4 separate regions of the Homo sapiens genome follow, and all the other regions are linked to region 2. The links come from fine-mapping of genetic effects on gene expression. A gene starts in region 2. Each other region holds a variant in brackets. All regions are shown on one strand. Distances are from middle to middle.

Region 1 (5,672 bases), 43 kb before region 2:
TCCTCCCCTGCCCTTTGGTTCTTCCCACCTGACTCTTCAGACACAGCTACCCAGCCCCACTGCGCTGGCCTATTTACCTATGAGGGGCAGTGAAGCTGGGCTGCAATGCAGCGCCTGCCAGCAGGGGTCACTGGGCACACACTGTGCTCCCTCCCCCGAGTTATGCACCTGCCTGGACAGACCTCACCCACCAACTCCCTCTGGCCTTCTTGCTCTCTCTAGGTGTGTGATGCGCTGCTGGCCCAGGCTACACCCCGACAAGGGACACCGGGGGCCCCGGGAGCAGAGAGACCTCAGAGCAGCCTCCTCCTGCCTCCTGTGGACGGCCGGCCCCAGCTGGTGATCCCAGCCAGTCCCAGCTTTCAGTTGCTGCCCCCACCGACAGTCCTCAGTCCCTCCATGATGGCTCCCCCGACAGCCGGCCCCCTTCCTGGCCCAGCTCTTCCGCCTGAGGACCCAGGGCCGGATCCGGAGAGCAGGTGGCTTTTCTTGAGCGCCAACATTCTGCCCGTGGGTGAGTGAGGCCCTGGCTACCCACACCAAGCCAGAGAACATTGTTCTTCTCCTGCTGAGTGCGTCTCTGTTTCCTGGAGCCCAGGGACAATACGGTTCAGGGTTCAGTTCAGTGACCCTGATGTCCCGTGATGTCACCTGGGGAGAACTGGGGCTCTGCTAGCACCCCAGGGCAGGTGGGGCCGCCACGTGCAGAGGAGCCTGGCGTGCAATTCAAGAGCTCTCAGTGTGTGTCCCTTCGTGTGGGCAGAGAGGGGGTGGGTTCATTCTTGGGGGATGGCTCTCTGCCCACCTGCTGCACTGGGGGGGTCTGGGAGAGGTGCCCCTGCAGCTCACGATGCTTCCTTCTTGGTCGTGTTGTCACTGTCAGAAGGGCGAAGGCCTCCCGATGTGGCGGACAGCTCTGGGGTCTAGTGTGGAGACTTTGGGGTGTGGAGCTGGTCCCCTGAGCTCCTGAGCTTCTGCTGGGATGCCCTGGAGTGGCAGGCCTGTGGCTGGCTGCCCTGCGTGTGCGTGTGCGTGTGTGTGTGTGTGCACACCGCTATCTGCCGCTTCTGCTCCCCCTGGGGGCCCCTGCTGCTCTCTGGGCGGCCGCTCCCAGGCAAGAACCATGGCAGTGGTGAGCGTGTGTGCGTGTGTGCGTGTGTCTGCCTGCACTCGTGAGGGTCTGCACCTGTGCCTACATGGTGTGTGCCCAAGTGCGTGTGTGTGTGTGTGTGCTCATGCTCTGTGCATGCCTGTGCCTCACAGAGGTGGCTCCGGCTTGTCAATGCCACATTCTCCAGATATGCCCAGACAGGTCTTCGCCATCTGAGGGTGGAGCTGCGCCTGGGGAGCTGCACACAGCCCCTGCCGGGCTTGGGGCCCTGGCTTTCAGCGCTGTCTGGAATGGACACCGGGGAAAGGGGAGACCAGATGGGGGAGGGGAGCAAGCTGCGCCCCCTTCTCCAGAGCTTCCAGAGTCCTGGAGAGCTTCCAACTCTGGCAGGGCCTGGGGGCGGGAGGAGCCAGCGGTCCTATATGCAGAAACAGTATCAGGTCCAGGGGCAACGGTTCCCAGGATAGAGGACTCCTGCTGTGTACCCTTCTGCTGCTGGCCCTGCCCCTCATCACAGTCCCTGCCTCTCCGTTCCTACCCCTTGTTACTGTCCCCGCCCCATGCCTGGGTGGTGGATGCTGAGGGAGGGCAGTCTTGTGCTGGGTGCTGGGCCTACCCTCATCCTGGGGGCCTTTCTGGGAGGCTCCTTCTTGGTTGAGCCGGAATCGTGTCCCTTTCCTTTGAGTCGGTGCCTGCCCCCACTGATGCCAGCTCAGTTACCTGTGCACATTAGGGTGGTGGTTGGCAAGGTGCCCCGGGTGGTGTGGGCCTCTGGCCTGCTCCAGGACAGGCTCGGCTCTGCCTGTTGGGTTTCGGGGTCCCAGACTGGGGGGCTTGTATGGAGCCTCGTGCATTTACCAGGCGTCAGCTTCGTGCTGCCTCCTCTGGGACTCACGGCCATGGCTGCCCACAGTGAGGCCAGGCCCCACTCTGCAGATGAGGCGGTGAGGACCCCACAATGCTGGGGCTGGCACCTGGCTGCCGACTCTCTCATCTTCCTGGCTCACACCCTCAGCCCTGAAGCGGTGGGCAGTGATGGGGATGGGGGTCAGGTCCGCTTGGGAGTGCAGCTTGGGGGTGAATAACTGAGCACTCCGGCTGGGACTGGGGCAGGTGGACAGCAGGGGGCCCAGGTTGGGGGCCGTGGGACAGCACTGGGGCCAGCCCCCTGCCCTGCTGGCCCCTCATGGCTGACAGCACACCCCGTCCCCTGTGCAATTTGCCTTACCCCAGTTCTTGTGTATCCGTGGTAACGGGCTTTCATTTAGAGCAGCTTGATCCAGCTCCTGGGGCTAACGGGTGGGGGAGAATGCAAATGACTGCTGGGCACGTGGCCGGGCCCATGGCACAGGCTGGGGTGTGCACCCGGCCCCCACACTCAGCGCCCTGGGCCCGGGGGCCCCTGCTGGGCATGATGAGGGTCTGAGCTGCCCAGACAGTGCACTCTCCAGGCTCTGGGAGCCTTCACTCCTGATCCCTGAGCCTCTCAGTGCCTGGGGCCGGATGCCAGAGGTGGAGGGTCAGAGCCCGCCGTGCAGGCTTGCCTGGACGGACACCGCCGCCCTCCCACAGCAGGGAGGGTCCCCAACTCCCCCGTCCGGAGGGGCTGTCACAGGAGCTGCCCCTGGGAGGCGCCTGGAGGTCTTTCCCGTCCGTCAGGTGGGGAGGGGTCTGTGGCAGTGCTCCCTTCTCTTCCCGGTGCACACACGGGCTGGGTGGAAGAACCTGGGCACCCTGCCTGCCTGTTACCCACCAGTGCCCATGGCTGAGCTTCAAGTGCCCACCCTTTGCCCCCTCCCATCCCTGAGGTTGGGGCCGTGTTTCCCTCTGGGAGGATCGAAC[A/G]GCTTGGATGTGGGGCCCCACTGAACTCAGAGGTGGGAGCCTTCTTCAGGCTGCCCCCTAATACTGAGCCAGCAAAGGTAAATGGGGGTCCTCCTTCCACTCTTCCCCTTCCAGATTGGCTCCCGGCCCCCGCTGTGTACGTGCTCAGGTGTCCGGGGAGGACCAGTGTGCTGTGGTGTGGGTGGTGGTGCTGGGAGCAGAGGCAGGCAGGTTTTGTGGGGCTGACTGCATGTGCACCTGGGGCTGCTGGTGGCCTGGCCTCCCTGGCATCTCCATGTGGATGAGGCTGGCAGCATGGCCCTACTTGGCCGGGGGCTGCTGAGGCCCATCCGGGCCGGTGTGCTCCTGTCCCCTGGAGTACTCCAGCGGGAGGCTGTGGCTCTTGGGGTTCAGGGCTGCTGGAGTATGTGTCCCCGCCATTCTCACTGAGCTGGAGCTGGAGCGGCTCAGTCTCGGTGCCTTGAGGCTGGCACAGGTGGGAACGGTGTGTCCGCACAGCAGGAGCCTCCCCGGGGGCTTTCTGACTTCAAAGTGCACTCAGATCTGCGTTTTCCTTCGGACTCTACACCGGCTCTTATGTTGGCGGCTCTTGTATGTTTCTTTTTTCCCTGATCATGAAAGCAAGACTCACTCAGAGGAGATGCTTTGGAAAATACAGAAAAAGACAAGGGAGAAAATCAGACCAGCCATTGCCATCCACCTCTCCCCGCTCCTTCGTGGCTTTGGGTGCCTGGGTTAGGCAGAGCCCCTGCCGGCTCCCCAAACCCCCTCAGAGCCATCGACTCCCTCCACGGATGTGCCCACACTGGGGGTCCCGGGTGATGTTGGCCGTTTGGTCCCTTCAAACGTTTGAATTTTCCCCTGGAGCCCGGCTTTGAGTGTCTGCCTCATGCTCCGAAGGGCAGCAGTGCAGTCTCCCCGGGCACCCAGGAAACTCGACGAGCTGCTGCCATCAACATCGCAGGAGGTTCCTTCACAGGCATCGCGCGTCCGGCTTCGTGGCGGGTCTCCCGTTGTTTCCTTGGAGGCTGCGGGTCTCCCTGGGTGGCGTTTGATGTATGTGCACCGAGCTCTTTGAGGCTCCCACCTTCAGCTTCTTACTGAGCAACCAAGGGAGGTGGCTGGGTGTGCCAGGGGCCGGCGGGGGCCGCGCCTGGGCAGGGGGCACCGCGCCTTCCCCAGGTCAGTCCCTGCCTGAAGCCAGGTCAGAGGCTTTTCTAGAAGGAGGCAGGACACACGGACTCACCTTCACAGCCGTTTACAACCTGGGAAGGTGGCCCCAGCTCCTTGTGCCGTGGGGCCCCTTCTCTCCCGGGCACCCACAGGGCCTCTGGCAGGGGCGTATTTCCCCCACGCACAGGTTCCTTATCTGTCTCCTCAGCTGTATCCAGAATGCAGTCTGGTTGTGGAAAGCAAAATTAAACACTGCCTTTGTAGACAAAGCAGCTGCCGCCAGGTGCGGGCGGCACAAGCTCTGTCACTGGCCTCGGGGGCCCTGACTCTCCTTTGAGATGCAGAACCCTGGACACTGGGCCGTGGGACCCTCCAGTCCCGGAAGGGCCAAGTGTGGCAAGGGCCTGGCTTCCAGCAACCCCCTTCCCCCCACAGCCAGCAGAGGAGCCCCAGGCTGCCCGGGCTGCCAGCCGCACTAAAAGTGGGGAGAGCCTCGCCGGTTGTGTCCCCACTCTGGGGCCATGCAAGCTCCTCTCCCTGGTGCCACGTGCACTGATGATGTGCTTCACCTGGAAATCGAGGCTCCCCGTGGAAACCACCCCCGGGCAGAATCAGCTGTGGGTTGCGTATGTCCTCGGGCGCCCATGCTGTACCCAGGCTGCCCAGGAGAGCTGAGCCCGCACGGGAAGGCAGGCCCCTAGAAGTGTGTCCCCGTGGCCCAGAGCTGGCTTCTCAGGGGGGATTTGTTCTGAGAAGTCCGTGGCCTGCGAGCCTCAGCATGCAGCAGGCCGGGCAGAACACCGGGGCGCAGGGACTTGGCTTTGTCAGCAGCAGGAGGCAGGTGCACTGACCTGGATGGTCCTGCCTGGGCTGCAGAGAAGTGGGCAGTCCAGGAGCTCTGCTGGGAGGAGGAGTGGAGCTCACCAGGACGAAGGAGAGCATGTGGAAGATGGTCCCGGGGGTGAGGACCTTTCCTCCAGGAACCCCTGTCACCTGCGGACAGTGAGCAGGCCAGAGGCCGGGCAGGGGCTGTGGGGGGTGGGGCCCGGTTGCTGCCTCTTGCAGGGAGGGCACCTGGGCTCGGGGTGTTTCCTCAGAGAGGATAGGGAAGTGAGGCTCACGCCCAGGGGTCCCCGGGCTCTGGGCTGACCAGCGCTCTCACACCACCCTGGGTAGTCAGAGGGCACCAGCAAAGCTGTTTTAGGTTCCAAATGGCTGGAGGCTGGAGGCTGGAGGCTGGAGGCTGGAGGCATGTGTTAGTGAGGCGGGGATAGCAGGCGCAGGGGCCTCTCTTTGCAGGGACTGGGGAAGGGGCCAGGGACCTCAATGGGGTCCCTGGGGAGGACAGAGGTGGGAATAGTTGCTGGCTGGCAGGGCCCGAGTGCAGCGTGACACGGCTCTCAGAGCCCACAGCACGCCTGGCCTGTTGTGATCTCCAGGAGGGGAGACTGGGTTTCCAGGGTCCTTTGATGGCTGTGGAGTACAGCCAGGGTGGAGAAGATGATGAACTGTGGGCAGCTGGGGTCCAGAGCCCCTGCGATGGGAG
Region 2 (5,672 bases):
CGGCCAGACCCTTGAGAGCTGGACCCTGGACACCAGTGTGGACACTGGCTCCCGTCACCTCCTCAGAGCAGGCCTGGTGGCCTTAGCTGCCTCTGTCCTGCCCGTCCCTCCCTGTCCACCTGTGTCCAGCCAGCGCCTGCTACGTGTTGGATCATGGCCTCACAGGGACAGAGCAGGGAGGAGGACTTCGAGGTCCCTGCCCCAGGGATGTCCCGGGGTCAGGCAGTGCTCTGAGGACTGGGGAGCCCCACTGTGCTGTGCAGGGACCTGGGGGAGCAGCAGGTGAGCCAGGGCCCTCCTCTCCCCGACGGAGCCTATATCTGCCCGACCAGGACTGCCGGCCCTTCCCAGTCTGGCCTCTGGTGTGGGCCCACAGCCAGGTGCATTGCTACAATCCCACCTGAGCTCCCACATCAGGTGTCCTGGCTCAGGCTCACGGGAGGGGCCGAGGCGGCCTGGGGGTGGGTGTGGACCATGGCTGAGGGCTGGGCCCCTGTGTGGAACCACAGAGCAGAGCGTGGCTTCTTCGGCCTCCCTGTGGGCTTTCAGGATGGCCGGGCCCTGGCTCAGGGCAGGCAGGGTGAGCATGAGGGCCCGTCAGTGCAGGCTGTGGGGCTGGGCTCGCCTGCCGGCATGGGGGTGGGGCAGCCCCCTCCGTGACCTTGTGTGGGGGCTGGGCTGGGCCCTGGGCCGGCTCACAGGCAGCACGTGGGGAGGGGTTCTTAAGTCTCTGGGCCTGGGCCCCTGCCACGTCTCTTGGCCCGGGGCACCCCCGGCTTCACGCTGCAGCTGCGGTTCTGTGTCTGCCTGAGTTTTGGAGGGGAGTGGGCGGTCCCTTTGGACCTCAGGGCAGGCAGGGCAGCCCCCGGCAGAGGCCTGTGTCAGGAAGGGATTAGCCAGGCCTCCACCCGCCTGGACAGTTGAGGATTCCAGCTCTGCTGCTGAGGAGGTCAGGGGGCCTGGGGTGCAGGAGCCTGGGACCCACGTTGTGGGGCTGGGGCCAGGCACTCTATGTGTGGCTCCTCTCAGAACCCCTGCCCAGGCAGATGGCGGCCTCCAAGCCCTAACCCCAGCTGATGGGGGATCAGCTAGTGGCTGAGAGCTCAAGGGAGGGAGGGAGGGAGCAGAGGCCCAGCCTTGGGGAGCTTCAAGGAGGGATGGGTGAGAGACGGGAGCACCCCCAGCTGGGGCCAGGCCCAGGGTGAGGGAACAGCAGGTGTGTCCCAGGCCAGGAGGCCTCTGAGGTGCAGGAAGGAGAACTGGACCCCCTGGGTCAGAGTGGAAGCCCGCAGCAGCCCAGTATGAGGTGGGCAGGGGCCCTGGGCCAGGGCTATGGCCGTCTGGTCTGTCTCCAGGCCCTCAGGCCACCTCCTGGCCCCTGCGCTGCCCCTTACACGGTGGCCTTCCCCGAGGCCCTGTCTTCCTGAGGACGCCCGGGACTCCAGCCCCTCTCCTCTCCCTGCAGCTCATGGCTCCCTAATCTAATTCCACGGCAGAGCCCAGAAACGCCTGCTGACCTGCTTCCGCCGAGAGCAGCAGAGCCTGTGACGGGGCCCCTGGTGGGGGCCTGGGTTGGCTCTGTGCTGACTGCATCTGATCTGGCTGGGTGTGGCCCTGGTTGTCAGTGGTCAGCTGGAGACGCATGGCCATCTCCTCAGGGACTGCCACCTCCCACGCCTGACCTTGGCCCCGGGGCTCTGCCAGGATGCCCAGCCCTGGCACCTCCCTGTCCTGGGCTCTGCAGGCCAAACTCCTCCCCTGGTATGGGGGGAGGCGAGCAGCTGCCCGGAACCTTCCAGTCCTTGTTGCTGGAGCCAGTAGAGCCTGGGCAGTGGGTGGGAAGAAGGGCGGGGTTCTCCCCAGTGTGGTCACGAAGCATGGGCATGGCCAGGACACAGGTGGCTGGTGTTCAGCCGGGGTCTGCCCACCTCCCATTCCCACAGCTGCCCCTGGTGTCCCGGCCTGGACTTGGGGATGGGAGAGCCTGTGCTGTCCTGTAGTGCGGGGCCAGTACACAGGGTGGGCTGTGTGGTCCTGGTGGCAGTGGGACCTGGAGTCCTTTCCTCAGTGGGAGCTGAGACGGTGGGGTGGGTCCTCCTTGGGCGAGGCCCCTGTCCAGGTCAGATGGCTGTCATCCCTGCAGGGCAGAATGTGGGGACAAACGTGCCCTGGGCATGGGGCCACCTCCTCCGCCACAGCTCGGTGACCGTGGAGAAAGGTCAGGCTGGGGCTGCAGCTGCATGAGGGAGACATGGAGAGCCCAACCCAGGCTCAGGGACCCACATCCTGGGCCTGGGCTGGGAGTTGTCGCTGTAAGGGATCCGGCTCGGCTCCCCTCTCCAGCCACAGGGGCTGGGCGCTGCGGGGATGAGGTGAGCTTCTGCCCCTGCTCTGGGCCACCTGCCTCTGGACTTTGGGGATCCACTCAGAGGTCCTCATAAGTAGGGATGCGGGGTGAGGGCAGGGACCACTCCAGGCCCAGCCTCGGCATCTGTGGTGGGCGCACAGCGGGGAGGCCCACCCCACACAGGGTCCTCGGAGGACAGTACCCTGCAGGCCTTCCGGTTGCGTTCTCTGGGTCCCAGGAGGGCCCTCCCGTTGGTCCTGCTCTTGTCCCGCAGCCCTGACCTGGGTCTGGTGGCCTGGGGCCTTGGGAAACTCTGTTGCCTCCCCAGTGCCCTCCCATCCCCAGCTGGGAGTTCCCTCGGCCTAAATCCTCCACCAGCTGGGCTGGAGCTGGGATTAGCACAGGGATTGGGCCTGGGGCTGGGCGGGGCTGAGGTCCTTTGCTCCCCCAGCCTTGGGAGGCGGCTGCGTCAGGGATTCCTTGGTGGCCCTGGAGGGTGGATAGGCTGGCCTGGGGGCCATCAGGACAGCAGGTGACGGTCAGGCCAATGCCAGCCGGGCCTGGGCACAGCCCTGTGGGGGCTTCGGAGGGCCCTGAGGAGGAGGAGGAAGAGGCAGAGGAGAGAAGGCCCCACGGAGGTCCTGTCGCCAGCGCTGCCACTGCCTGACCTCCGCTGCCCGAAGGCCGGTGGGCCTCTGTGGCCTCCGTGAAGCAGGCCCGGCTGTCGTCAGGCCATGTCTGGTCCATGGCCCTCCCCCGACAGCCGGACCAAGGGAACGGTGGCCTGGCTGGCGGAGGTACTCCTCTGGGTTGGAGGGAGTGTGGTGCTGTCTTCAGAGTGGCAGCTCGGCCCCCTGGGTAAGAAGGGGCAGGCGAGTGGCCTGGGCTGAGTGCTGGCCCTGGCCAGGTGACTGGTGGGTGGGGGCTGTTCCTGGAGGTGGGGGAAGCCTGGGCCTCCATCCCATCCTGCACTCGCCTCCCCTGTCCCCCGGGTGCTCTAGGGATCATGTGGGTCCAGCAGCGTCGGCTGGCCCTGCCCCTCAGCCGCTCAGAGGCGTGCTCAGCACACCTCGGTCTCCCAGGCACCTGCAGGGCCTGGGGGCTGAACCCAAGGGGGCGAGGGGGGATCTCAGGTGGCTCCAATGCTCTCATTGAAGGGGTGCCTTGTGCTCTGGGGGTCAGTGGTGCTTGCAGCCCAGGCGGCTGGGCTGGCATCCTGGTGCCGGACATGAGGGCCTTTGCCGTTAGGAGACTCTGCAGAGGAGACTGGCTGGGTATGGCTGGGAGGGTGGAGTGTGTGTCTTGTGGTGGCCTGTGGAGGGCCCCGGTCCGGGCTGGCCTGCCAGCTCTCTGTTCCAGCGGCAGACAGGGTCCTGTCCAGGCTGCCCTGTTGCAGGCCTCTGCCCGCCCCCTGCCCCTGTGTCCTGCCTCACCCCTCTCCTAAATCCCTGCAGCCATACCTGCGTCTTCACCTCCCATGTGCCCCGGAGAGCCCAGCCCCCCATGCCATGGCTTCCATCCCTTCAATTCCCCTCTGCTCGTGATCACGTAGTAGCTTCCCCAAGAAGGCCCGGCCAGTACTGCCCTTGGTCCTCTACAACGCCCCCGCCAGGGTCCCTCAGCGTGCAGACCTGGGGTGGGGATTAACGTCTCTGTGCTTTAGCAGATGGTACCTCTGGGACCCGGGCTTTCTGTGAGCAGGTGTGCAGGAACCGAGGGGGTGAGACCAGTCTGTTCCTGGGCTGGGACAGCTGACTCTGGCCTGGACTCCCTGGACCCTGCAGCCCCCTCTCCTGGGACAAGCTACAGCAGGAGGCTGAATGGAGAGAGGAGGGGAGAGAAGGAGCGAGGCAGGCAGCCTGGGGGAGGGGAGGGGAGGGGTTGTGAAGCTCGGATCCGGCACCACAGCCTCCCAAGTCCATACTGCAGTGCAGGGCGTGCGACGCAGACATTCATGGCACCATTCGTGGCGCTTGTTGCACATGAGGGGTGGGGGCTTTCCTGGAGATGCCCCAGGCAGGGGCACAGGCACTCAGGAATTCGACCGCTCCCAGGAGCCACCTGTGGCCAGGGGCGGGGGCAGGGGCATGGGGTTGCTGCCTGCTAGGCCCACCCCGCCCCTGACAAGGGGCCTCCACTGCACTATGGCCCCAGACAGCCAGCCCAGCCACCTCATCTGTCTTGCCTCGTGCCCGGCCTTCCCATTGTTGAGTTCTGTGCTGGCTCCGTCTGAGTGGTAGCTCTCGGGGCCCCAGGCCCAGCGCCGGTTACCAGGGCTGCTAGGACTGGTCCAGGAGGTGGTGGGAGTGGCAGGTGGCCGAGCAGGGTGGGGAGCAGGGCCCTCAGTTCCCAGGACCATCTGGGGAGGAGTGGCAGGGCCCAGCTGAGCTGTGTGACCCAGGCAAGCCGGCACCTGGGGTGGAGGTGGCCCTGGGCTCTGGCCTTTGCCCTGTCACTGGCAGGGCGGTGTGGGCGGGGCCGGGCGAGGTGAGGAGTGGCCGTGCCTCCGCTGACGGCCGTGTTTCTCCCGTGAGGAGTGGCCGTGCCTCCGCTGACGGCCGTGTCTCTCCTGCGAGGAGTGGCTGTGCCTCCGCTGACAGCCGTGTCTCTCCCGTGTCCAGTGGAGCGGTGCATGGGTGCCATGCAAGAGGGGATGCAGATGGTGAAGCTGCGTGGCGGCTCCAAGGGCCTGGTCCGCTTCTACTACCTGGACGAGCACCGCTCCTGCATCCGCTGGAGGCCCTCACGCAAGAACGAGAAGGCCAAGAGTGAGTGGGAGCCCTGGGGTGGGGACAAATCAGAGTCCCTGGGGGGACACGACGGTAGGGACCCTCCCAGGGCAGCCACTGATGGCTGAGGAGCAGCGAGACCCTAGGCCTGGACACCTCTGGGCTCAGTGGCCTTGGGGATCTGCAGTGACCTCGGGCTGTGGGGTAGGAGGGATCCAGGCCCCCTGCCCGCCTGGCAGAGCTCCCTGGGACTCAGTGAGGACCGAGTAGCACTGTGCCCAGCCCTGTGCTGAGTGCTGGGCTGGAAGGAGGGGCACAGCATAGTCCATCTAGCTGGGGAGGTCACAGCTCCCCATAAACAGAAACGACCCCCACAGAGGTATGCTGATGGATGGGTATGGGTGCAAACAGTGGCTCAGGCAGCCACTGGGCATGGCTGCTGGAGGGAGCAGGGGCCACCCGAGATGGAGGCTCTGTGCAGGGGGTGGGTGGGGAGAGTTGAGGCACACAGGGAACGGGTAGGGTCCCACGGTTTGGGGAGAGACATGGCAGTCCTCAAGGGCTGGGATCAGGGCGCAGCCAGGGTTTCTGATGGC
Region 3 (5,672 bases), 27 kb after region 2:
CTCCCCACGCCACTGCTGTGGCCGCCTCACCTGCTCCCCCTGTCTCTTTGGTCTTGCAGTCGGCTTCTCTATGGCCACAGCCTACTTTTAGAAGTGCAGCTCTGTTAGGAGCCTTGAAGGTACCCGGTGCGCGGGACAGTGCGGCCCGCCGCCCCTGCATGCCCAGGCCGCACCCCATTAGCATCCATGATTCCTGGTAGCATTTGGAGACTGTCGCTCATGTGACGTGGATCATGACATGGCTCCGGGGGCCCTGGCCATCCCCAGCCATAGTGGCATTTACGAGGCAGATCCAGGGTTCAGCTGGGTGGCCGCCTTCTCACTGGCCTCTCCTCCCCTCCCCTCCCTCAGTCCTCCCTCCCCTCCCTCAGTCCTCCCTCCCCTCCCTCAGTCCTCCCTCCCCTCCCTCAGTCCTCCCTCCCCTCCCTCAGCCCCTTCCCTGGCGGGCAGCCCGCTGGAGCCCCCACTGTGCCCCTCCTATCCCCCTCCTTCTCTCTCCTGCCCCCATCTCGGACCCTCAGGCTGTTGGTTCTGAGTTCGCCTCCCACTCCCTCCCTGTCCTTGCCAACCATGCCAGTGCATGGGATGAGGGCACCCCTGAGGCCGGCGCTCCGAGCCAGAATCCCGGATCTGCTTCTAAATGGCTTCCCAGCCACTGTGACCAAATGCGTAGATTTGGGATCTTGAATCAGGAAGCTGATTCAAGTGCTGGCCATCTGAACGCATCTGCCCAGAGGCGCCCCTGCAGGGGGGTGACCCACCTGCCGGGCCTGGGCCGCTCTGTGCACGAGCACGGCTCGTCATGGGGGCGCGGTGGGTGCTGTCTCGGGGGCATCTGGCATGTGAGGGCCCCTCTGGCCTCTGCGCCCTGGAGATGCGGCTGCCTCCCTCTCAGCAGCTGTTCTGCCCAGGCAGGGACCTCCTGGGCCCAGCTGTCCAGGAAGATTGGCTGTGGCCAGGTGCTGGTGGGCTGGGAGTCTGAGCCCATCTTGGCAGGGCTCAGGGGGCAGCAAGCCAGCTGCGGGCCTTGGGGGCTCACATGAGTGGAGGGCAGGGCAAGACCAGAAAAGGCTGCCTGGGGGAATTCAGGAAGGCTTCCTGGAAGAGGTGGTACTTCCTAGGGCACGAGTATCACCATGGGAGTGGGCAGGACACGGGCCGGGCAAGTGGGCCTCCCGCTGCACCTGGCTACTCCTGCTGTGGACCAGCTACTCCTGCCTGAGGGTGGGGCACACACAACCAGGGAGTGCCACGCCAGTGTCCCCTGCTAGCGCCGGGGGCTGCGGGCCTCTGAGCAGGTGCAGGCTGTGGTGGGCCAGGCTGGGGCTCGAGGTCTCTCCTCCGGAGGGAAAGACCTTCTCTCCATGCCCCTCAAGGGCCCCACATGCCCTGGACAGGTCAGGCGAGGGCAGTTTCTGCCGGAAGGGTGGGGTGGGCCATGTGTACTTAGATCTGTAGCAGCTACTGTCCCAGGCAGAGCTGCCCTAGGGACCCTGCTCCTGAAGGCCCTGGTGTGTCCACACACCCCCAGCCTGAGGTGGCCCAGCCCCTCGGACCGAGACACGCATGGCACGTCTGTGGCACGGTCTGGAGAGCTGGCCCTGGGGGAGCAGCTGCAGCTGGGCTGGGACCCCTGGCAACAGCTACATGGGCTCCTTCTCTTGCAGGTCAAGCAGGCTCTGGGCCTAAAAGGCCTCTTCCTCCGAGGCCCAAAGCCCGGCTCGCTGGACAGTCATGCTGCTGGGCGGCCCCCGGCCCGGCCCTCCGTTAGCCAGCGGATCCTGCGGCGCACGGCCAGCGCCCCGACCAAGAGCCAGAAGCCGGGCCGCAGGGGCTTCCCGGAGCTGGTCCTGGGTACACGGGACACAGGCTCCAAGGGGGTGGCAGACGATGTGGTGCCCCCCGGGCCCGGACCTGCTCCGGAAGCCCCAGCCCAGGAGGGGCCCGGCAGCGGCAGCCCCCGAGGTAAGGCGCCAGCTGCGGTGGCAGAGAAGAGCCCTGTGCGAGTGCGGCCCCCGCGTGTCCTGGACGGCCCCGGGCCTGCTGGGATGGCCGCCACATGCATGAAGTGTGTGGTGGGATCCTGCGCCGGCGTGAACACCGGGGGCCTGCAGAGGGAGCGGCCACCCAGCCCGGGGCCTGCAAGCAGGCAGGCAGCCATTCGCCAGCAGCCCCGGGCCCGGGCTGACTCACTGGGGGCCCCCTGCTGTGGCCTGGACCCTCACGCTATCCCGGGGAGAAGCAGAGAGGCCCCCAAGGGTCCTGGGGCCTGGAGGCAGGGTCCAGGCGGTAGCGGCTCCATGTCCTCGGACTCCAGCAGCCCAGACAGCCCGGGCATCCCCGAAAGGTCCCCCCGCTGGCCTGAGGGTGCCTGCAGGCAACCGGGGGCCCTGCAGGGAGAGATGAGTGCCTTGTTTGCTCAAAAGCTGGAGGAGATCAGGAGTAAATCCCCCATGTTCTCCGCCGGTAAGCCCCTCTTGCCCTGCGTGGTCCTCCCGCACGCCCCTGGCATGGCTGGGCCTGGGTCACCTGCTGCTGCTTCTGCGTGGACGGTGTCGCCTCGTGTGCTCGTGCTCGTGGCTCTGTATCCGTGGCACTGTCTCCGTGGCACTCTGCTCCCTTGGCTTGCCTGTGGCCCATAGCCCCAGCCCTCCTGTCTGAGCTTGAGGCCCTGGGACTTGGGTGGAGCTGGTTTGAGGCCCGACAGGCTGGGAAGAACCAGCTGCTCTTGCTGAGGGTCTGGGGCCGGGACTGTGGCCTGACATGCTGGGCCCCTCCGGCTGGGCGCTTCCCCAAACTCACCTCCTGGGCGGCTGGCGACCTGCATGGCCCCTGATGCCTTTCCTGGGACTGGGGGCCA[C/T]GTACCATCCCATTCCCACCTCCCTCTAGGGCAGGCTCCAGGGGTCCCTACTGGGAAGTCTGATGTGGGCAGGTAGTGCAGCTGCTGGGCGTCTCCTGCGCCCCTGGGACGCCTGGAGCCTGCTGAGTGCTGCGTGGAGTAGATTCCCTGGGCCCCAGGGCTTCGCTGCTTTGGGCTGAAGCACCCCACTAGAAGGGTGTCTCCTTAGCCTGGAGGGAGGGACATACACGGAGCCCGCCCCACACCACCCTGCCCCTCCAGACCCCCCTGACCAAGCTTTCCTTTCTGCCCCCACCCACGCTGCCTCCGTAGTTAGGAACTGAGAGCGGCGAGTGACAGGTAACGGGGCCCAGCCCCGGTGTCCCGTGCTGTCCCAGCCCAAGGAGGGCCCCGTGTGCGGCACAGGGCGTGGACTGGGCCCCAGCAGCAGCAGGGTGGGGACACCGAGTGTGCCGCGCCCGGGGGATGCCTCGGGGTGGGAGCTGGGCCTGGCGACCCTCGGCACAGGGCACCGGGGACACCACCCTGATCCGACTCCTCTCCGCCTCTCTCCCTGCCTCCCTCTCTCTCTTCTGCTTCTCCCTCTGGCTCTCTCTCACTCCCCCACCTCCCCACAGACACCCGCCCCCTCTCCACGCAGCGGCCACTCCCCCCACTGTGCAGCCTGGAAACCATCGCTGAGGAGCCCGCCCCAGGCCCTGGTCCCCCGCCACCAGCGGCTGTCCCCACCAGCTCTTCTCAGGGACGGCCCCCATACCCCACAGGACCCGGAGCCAATGTGGCAAGCCCCCTAGAGGACACTGAGGAGCCCCGAGACAGCAGGCCTCGGCCGTGCAACGGCGAGGGCGCCGGCGGGGCATACGAGAGGGCCCCCGGCAGCCAGACGGACGGCAGGAGCCAGCCCCGGACCCTGGGCCACCTGCCCGTGATTAGAAGGGTGAAGAGTGAGGGGCAGGTGCCCACGGAGCCCCTGGGAGGGTGGCGGCCCCTGGCCGCTCCCTTTCCAGCTCCTGCCGTGTACTCCGATGCCACGGGCAGTGACCCGCTGTGGCAGCGGCTGGAGCCATGTGGCCACCGAGACAGCGTTTCCTCCTCCTCCAGCATGTCATCCAGCGACACTGTCATTGACCTCTCCCTGCCCAGCCTGGGCCTGGGCCGCAGCCGTGAGAACCTCGCTGGAGCCCACATGGGACGCCTGCCCCCCAGGCCCCACTCGGCTTCGGCTGCCCGCCCAGACCTGCCACCTGTGACCAAGAGCAAATCCAACCCCAACCTTCGGGCTACAGGCCAGCGGCCTCCCATACCTGACGAACTGCAGCCCAGGTCCCTGGCCCCAAGGATGGCTGGCCTCCCCTTCCGGCCTCCCTGGGGCTGCCTTTCCCTGGTGGGCGTGCAGGACTGCCCCGTGGCTGCCAAGTCCAAGAGCCTGGGCGACCTCACTGCTGATGACTTTGCCCCTAGCTTTGAGGGCGGCTCCCGCAGACTGAGCCACAGCCTGGGCCTCCCGGGAGGGACACGGCGGGTGTCGGGGCCAGGGGTGAGACGGGACACCCTGACAGAGCAGCTGCGCTGGCTCACTGTCTTCCAGCAGGCAGGAGACATCACGTCACCCACCAGCCTGGGCCCGGCTGGGGAGGGGGTGGCAGGGGGCCCTGGTTTTGTGCGGCGCTCCTCCTCCCGCAGCCACAGCCGCGTGCGTGCCATTGCCAGCCGGGCCCGCCAGGCCCAGGAGCGGCAGCAGAGACTGCAGGGCCTGGGCCGGCAGGGACCCCCAGAAGAGGAGCGGGGCACCCCCGAGGGCGCCTGCTCCGTGGGCCACGAGGGCAGTGTGGATGCACCAGCACCCTCCAAGGGAGCCCTCGGGCCAGCATCCGCGGCTGCTGAAAACCTGGTCCTGCTCCGCCTCTGACCGTCAGTGGTGGGAACCTGGGCGGCTCTGGAGGCCCAGGGCAGGGGTGGGCGTGTTGTTTGCTCAGGAAACAGGGCAGCCAGGCCCCCAAAACTGTGTCCCCCTGGCTGCCCTGTGTCCCCTCCACCCCTGCCTCCCTCCTGCCCCTGCTCCCGGGGAGGAAAGGCTAAAGCTGCTGGCCCGGGGCCCACAGGAGGGGCTTCGAGGCTGGCCCTGCCAGGCAGTTTTCCCGGCGTTTTAGGATCTGTACATAGAGAAATATTTAAATTTTTAGAAGCAAAACTTATACAACATTAAAATGATACCAAGTCCCTTTCCATTTTTACCTGGTTTTTCACCCCAGGTGTGTGTGGTGTGCATCTGTGCGCACCTGTCCTGAGCCTGCCCCGGGAGGCGCGGCTGACCTGGCCACGGCACAGGCGGGGGTGCTTGTGAGGCACCAGGGCTGCTCAGGACGGCCGTCTGGGCCTTGCCCTGAAGCCTGTATCTGCCTTGCACCGACCACGCCACCCTCTGCACCATGCCTAAGCCTCTGTCAACTCCCAAACGTGGTTCTGATAAACGTGCTCACCAGCACGCATGGGCTTCCCGTTCGCTCAGCCTCCTGTGCCACTTACTTACCAGGTGCCCGTCGGAGCCTGCGCCAGGCCCAGAAGACACCCCAAGAAAAGACCTGGCCTGTCCTCAGAGGGCTGAGCTGGACAGGCTCCCAGGGTAGGCTGCAAAGCCTGCTCCTCAGGACGCAGGCCCTAACCCCGGGCCACAGGCCCCCCAACCCGGGGGACTGCTCTGCCTGCAGAGCATGGTGGTTCCAGAAAGGCCCCTACCCTAGAGAAGCTGGGGTGCTGGTCGGGCCTCTGGAAGCCTGTGCTGCAGCCCGTCCTCTGCTGCCCCAACAGTGGG
Region 4 (5,672 bases), 36 kb after region 2:
TCCTTGTCATTTTCACGCCCTCCTTGTTGGTGAGAGTGGGGCTGGGGCACAGATGAAGCCAGCACTGGAGAATCCCACCAGGCAGAGCAGACCAGCGGCCCCAGCACTCAGAACCCGCTCATTTAAGGGGTTCCTTCCTCCTCTGCAATCAGGAGGACAGACAGCACCACATACAATTGACTAATGACCTCCAGAACCACAGAAGCAGAGCCTGGCATCTATGTGGGACACGGAGGTGACAGACACCGGGCAGCTGCCCAGGTCGCCCTCGGTCTCAGCTGAGTGGCCACAGGGACATTGGCCCCTCTTGCCCCAAGTCCCCAAACCCAGCCCATGTGTAACCACCTCAGACCCTGAATCCATTCACCCTCCCCAGGCCACCTTCGGGGATGGCATATCTGTCCCCTCCTGAGATCAATCCGGGCCTGGGGTCAGGAGAGGCCGCAGGGGCAGTCCTGAGGTCGGTGTCCCGCATGCACCTGGGTGCAGGTGCACGGCACAGAGGGCACAGAGCCCAGGAGGGAGAGAACAGGTGCAGGGTGCGGGGTTACCTGAGGTCGAGGCACGGGGAGCTGGAGCCCGTCTGCACCAGCAGCAGCCTCTCTTCCTGGAGCGCAGAGCTGCCAGATACAAGGTGGTCAGTGCCCCCAGGAGCTCCCAGTTCAGTGACAATCCCCATGGCCCACTCTGCCCAGCTGGTGCCCCTCCCCATCAAGGCCCCCCCAGCACTGCCCGCCAACACTCACTGCACGACAGGGTCCATGCCCGCAATACGCTCTGCCACGATGAGGGACTCGCTGTGGGTCACGTCGTTCAGGGCGGGGCCTGAGTTGCACGCCAGGATGACCTGCAGGAGGAGGGCCCAGGCTCTTTAGGAACCTGTGCTGGCCCAGCATGGAGCCTGCGTGCACCCCGGCCTTCGAGTGGCTGGGCTGGGTGAGGGTGCTGTGCCCAGCGGGCCTGGCCAGCCACCTGCTGCTGAGGAGCAGGGACCTCGCCTGACCTTGCCACTCTGTGGCCCCTGGGAGGGAGCTGAGCCGAGGGGCAGAGCTGAGTTTAGAGCCTGCCCCTGGGACCTGCCTGTCTGTGAAGTCACAGCCCCAAAGCCTCCTTGCTGTGAGCACCCTTCCAGGAGCCTGGCGTCAACCCTGGGCTTCAGCACATGGACCCTCAGCCTGAGCCCAGGGGGCTCGGAGCCTCCACCCCAGCAGATGACGGCTCTGGGCCGCCTCCCCCGTGCTGCTGCCTGCACCTACCTGCTGCGTCCGGAGGAGCCCCGACCACCGCCAGAGGCCCACAGCGGCGCCAACCCCACCGAGAGCAGAGAAGCCCAGGGGAAGGGCCCCACCCACCACCTCAACACTCACCTCTGTCCCTCTAAGGAGTAGCTCCCTGACAAAGGGGAAGACTCCCAAAATGATGTCTATTCCACTGTTATCTGCGAAAATTAAGGCACATTTATGAGGGGGCCCCTGTAAGACAAAACCAGGACGTTCAGTTGGGAACAGGCGCATCCAAGCGAGTCAGTCCGCACCCCTGCTGCCCGTCACGCTGCCCTGCAGGGGCCGAGACTGGGGGCTTCAGGGCCCCAGAGATGCCAGGGATGGGCTGTCCTGCAGGGGCCGAGACCAGGGGCTTCAGGGCCCCAGAGGTGCCGGGACTGGGCTGGGCTGCAGGGGCTGAGACCGGGACTTCAGGACCCCAGAGGCACCGGGACGGGCCAGCCTGCAGGGGCTGAGACTGGGGCTTCAGGACCCCAGAGGCGCCAGGGACGGATTGGCCTGCAGGGGCCAGTGCCTGTCTCTTCTGGCAAGGCTTTGTGCCTAGAGCAGGTGACCTAAGAAGCAGTCACGACAGGAGGGCAAGTGTGGGGCAGGGGATGCTGAGACCCTTGGCTCGCAGGATGGTGAGACTCTAACAGGAGGGGAGGGCCACCCGAGGCAGCCCATGCCCACCTCCCTCCAGTGACCACCCCCCCGGGCCCCGCTGTGTCCCCAGCAGCAGAGGTGGGAGGCCCCTCCACATACCTTTAATCTCTGAAGCCACTCGCTGTAGGAATCCACGAGCCAGGGTCTTTCTGAGACAGAGAGAGGGACACATGATTAGCCCGGTGCTCCAGGTCAGGGGTCAGGGAGACGCGTCTTCAGGTGTTCGTCTCTCCAGGAAGCAAGTTCTCCCCGCCCCCGAAGCCCAGCTGACAGAGCCTTGAGCAGGGGAGGTGCCTGGACCCCGACCGCAACTGCATTCGCTGTTGCAGAGAACGTCCAGGCATGGCCCCAGCACAAGGCAAGGCCCCAAGTTACTTGGCCATCCGTACCTTGTAACTTCCTCTTTGCTTCTTCAAACCCAAAGTAGGGGTCGGATTCAAGGACACTGCATGGAGGAGGAGAAAAGAAAATTAAGACAACAGAACAAAAACCTTCAGCCACAGTGCTCAATGTGAAGACCCCAAATCCCTCCCAGGCGGGACAGAGGCAGCTGCTCAATGTAAAGATCCCAAATCCCTCCCAGGTGGGACAGGGGCAGCTGCTCAACGTGAAGACCCCAAATCACTCCCAGGCAGGACAGAGGCAGCTGCTAAGACCCCAAATCCCTCCCAGGTGGGACAGAGGCAGCTGCTCAACGTGAAGACCCCAAATCACTCCCAGGCAGAACAGATACAGCGTTCTTAACATGCTGCGATCCGCAGAAGGCTCAGGGGGCCACCAAGCAAAGGTCTGAGAGAGCACAGGCTGTTTCTCAAGGTGGACTCGGAGCCACGGGGCCAGGGAAGCCTCTCGGTGACTGGCAGCCGCAGTATGGTCCCTGTGCTTGGCACCCATGCAGGCGGTGTGGGGAGCCCCCAGCCACAAGGCCAATCCCATGGGTCAGGACCCTCCTCCAATGCTCCTGACAGGCTGCGGGA[G/A]GGGCCTGTGTCCCAGAGGGGCAGCCATGGTTGGAGGCGGCGTTCTCATCTATGTCTCGAGACACGAGTGGGACCCAGGGAGGGCTGAGAACCCAGGCATTTCCCTCCAGCCCCACATGAAAAAAAGCAGGGACCACGAGAGGTGGTGCGGCCGCCTGGGGAGGCCCAGAGACTGGAAGCAGCTTCTTTGGGAGTGAAGGTAAATGATGGTGGGGGGGTTCATTTTCAAGATTCAGAGCCCCAGGAGACGGCGCCAGGTGCTAGACACCTGCGTGTCCTACAGGCCAGTCTAGGGGACTGCTTTGCAAAGCACCCTTTGATCATCACATCAGAAATGTTTAATTCCTACCACACATAGGAAACATGAATTTGGATTCTGACAATAGAAAATGCCAGCCCCGATTTTCAAATCCACACCCTTAGGCCTCTGCGGCACCCATGCTTAAGGAAGGGGCCTCCTCAGAACCTGAGGGGACAGACAAGGGCGCTGCGCCCTGCCCAGCCCCTGGCGCTGCTGCCATGTGCACTCCCTGGGCCCCAAAGCCCTGAGCCACCAAGCCACCAAGCGCCACGTGACCCCCAAGGGACCCGCTCCACCTCCTTGCCCGCAAGCCTGGGGCAGGACAGGCACCCACAGGCTGCAGAGCCTGCTCCGAGCCCGCAGACACCTACGCAGACACGGCTTTGGCCCCCCAGTCGAAGACATTCCCCGCCAGGAGGCCTTTCACCAGCGCCAGCTGCCGTTCCTCCCAGCCCAGCGCGTCCAGGGAGCGCACGACCCCGGGGAAGCACCTCAGCGCCACGCCATTCTCCCGCTGCTTCACCTGTGGAGAGTGCCAGATGCCAGGCCTGAGTGAAGACGTGGCCTCAGCCCACCCTGGACACCTGCCAGGCGCAGCCTGTTCCATACCACGCCCCTCAGGATCGAAGACTCAGGCCCAACTGGGACCCCACCAGGCACAAGCCTATCGGTCCGGGACAGTGGCCAGCGCACAGCTGCACGGGGCTCTGAGGACGAGGCCCAGGACAACTTCAGCCCCCATGTGACTGAGCAGTGGGTGAAGGGCAGGACAAGAGTGGAGGACACGGCCCCCACAGGTACCCACAGCCCTGGCCTCAAAACCCTCGACACCCAGACTTCCGCTGTCACAAGGCTCGGCGTGTGAGGGGAGGGAGGCATGGCGCTGGCCCTTCCCAGAAGAGGTGGGAGGAGTCCATGCCTCCGCTGCTGCCCGCTGCCTCCTGGCAGAAAGGGCCAAGGAGGGCTCTGGCCGCCAGACTTGGGGAAGCAAAACGGACGCCCGGAAAGGCCCACCTTGCACGGCCCTGCACGTTGCCGGGATAGGAGGCCTCTGGTCACTGTCCAGCCTCCTAGGAGGGAGCCAGGGTGGTCCAGGGTTCCAGCCCCTCCCCATGAGGGGAAAGCAGTCCCCAACCACAATCGCCCACCCTCACAGAAGCTGGGAGGCCCTTGGCTCCTGCAGGCAGGCAGCCTGTGTCTGTCAGGAACACATCCAAACTGGGGTTCACACCCTTCTTCTCTAGTCACAGCAGTCCCCACCCCTAAGTGGCCCCAGCATCTGTGGGGGTAACACAGCTCCTCAGCAGATGCTGCCAACAGAGGCCCTGGCTATTGTGGTGCCAGGGCTGGAGTTGGGGCCGCTACCAAACCTGCATGGCCTCAGACAGGACAGGATGCCCCGAGCCAGCGGGACAGAGACAGGACACGCGGTGCCAGCGGGACGGGGACAAGAGCGAGCGGAAGGCCAGGGCACACTGCACTTACTTTGGAGTAGGGATCCGGGAAGTTGAACTCGTTCAGACAGTGCTCCCTGGTGTCCAGCAGGCTGCGCACGGTCAGGGTCCCATAGGCGCTGGGGACAGACACGGCAGAGGGCGCTGAGCAGGGCAGGCCGAACACCCGCCCGTCTGCCATCCTCGGCTGTGCCACGGACGTCCTCAGGAGCCCGGCAGTGCAAACGCTGCTTGAGGCGGGGTCCAAGGGGGCTGTGCCGCCAGGGCCCACACCCACCCCCAGCGAGCTGGGGTCCGAATGCCAACATCACGGCACTTTCTCAGAGGTGCAGGGGCCCTCTGGATGGAAGAGGTGGCCACACACCGGGGTGCTGGGCACTTACAAGGGCTGCTGCCTCAGGGTCTGAAGCTTGTTCCAGTACTTCTGCCGGAACTTCTCCGCCCTCTCGGCTGCATCCACAGAGTCTGGCTGGCTCGCCACTGCGCGCTTCACTACCTGCCAGCGACAGAAGGAGGGGGTTAGTCAAGCGCTGGCCCTGCTGCTTGCGAATCCCCACGTGACAGCAGGGGGCTCGGGGAAGGGTGGGGGTCGGCCGTGGGGGACTGTCTGGGGCAGGGTGGGGGCGGCTGTAGGAGGCCTGGTGCAGGGTGGGAGCCGGCTGTCGGGGGCTGTTTGGGGCAGGGTGGGGGCTAGCTATGGGGGGCTTCCCGGGGCAGGGTCAGGGCCTGCTGTGGGGGACTCGGGCAGGGTGGGGGCTGCCTGGGCTGTGGTCAGGGCAGTTTCTACTGGAACAGGAAAGGCTGACGGTGACAGTTCACGGTCACCCGAGGCTTCCCTTTGCCATTCGCCCCTCCCAGTTGCCCTGGGAGGCAGGAGCAGGAGTGACCTTGGTCCCTCACCCCCCAGGAAACCCGAGGCCAAGACCCACGTCCTCAGACTCGAGCCCCCATCCTGTGCCGGGGACGAGGGGCTCTGGGCACTCAGAGCTCACTCCGGGTCCTGGGCAGGGCT

Which allele goes with the higher level. Positions count from the first base shown, and alleles are read on the strand shown. Sizes are in standard deviations (SD) of each study's normalised expression. Not every link is listed here.
With allele G in place of A in region 4, the expression in cerebellar hemisphere of the gene that starts at base 2,782 in region 2 is higher (moderate effect, 0.53 SD a copy in GTEx).

What was found. PIP is the estimated chance that this variant, and not a neighbour inherited with it, causes the effect. A credible set is the group of variants that fine-mapping cannot tell apart.
Region 1: its variant is the best candidate, but not a certain one, in a credible set for the expression of PLCH2 in lung (TOPMed, PIP 0.88).
Region 3: its variant is the best candidate, but not a certain one, in a credible set for the expression of PLCH2 in whole blood (TOPMed, PIP 0.65).
Region 4: its variant is the best candidate, but not a certain one, in a credible set for the expression of PLCH2 in cerebellar hemisphere (GTEx, PIP 0.59).

Annotation. Positions count from the first base shown.
Region 1 is chr1:2,430,116-2,435,787 of GRCh38, forward strand. It overlaps a transcript of PLCH2 not described here. Among named protein-coding and RNA genes, the nearest start is that of PEX10, 20 kb to the left of the region's middle. RefSeq lists a silencer at 56-233. The variant A/G (reference allele first, on the strand shown) is at 2,954.
Region 2 is chr1:2,473,508-2,479,179 of GRCh38, forward strand. PLCH2 (phospholipase C eta 2) reads left to right here and starts at 2,782. Exons shown (of 22, transcript NM_014638.4): 1 at 2,782-3,205; 2 at 4,969-5,115. The coding sequence starts at 3,082.
Region 3 is chr1:2,500,445-2,506,116 of GRCh38, forward strand. It overlaps PLCH2 (phospholipase C eta 2), which reads left to right. Exons shown (of 22, transcript NM_014638.4): 21 at 1,668-1,965; 22 at 3,478-5,088. The coding sequence ends at 4,769. Among named protein-coding and RNA genes, the nearest start is that of PANK4, 23 kb to the right of the region's middle. The variant C/T (reference allele first, on the strand shown) is at 2,861.
Region 4 is chr1:2,509,311-2,514,982 of GRCh38, forward strand. PANK4 (pantothenate kinase 4 (inactive)) reads right to left here. Exons shown (of 19, transcript NM_018216.4): 11 at 5,044-5,156; 12 at 4,692-4,779; 13 at 3,578-3,729; 14 at 2,318-2,373; 15 at 2,028-2,077; 16 at 1,368-1,472; 17 at 747-847; 18 at 552-620. Among named protein-coding and RNA genes, the nearest start is that of PANK4, 14 kb to the right of the region's middle. The variant G/A (reference allele first, on the strand shown) is at 2,906.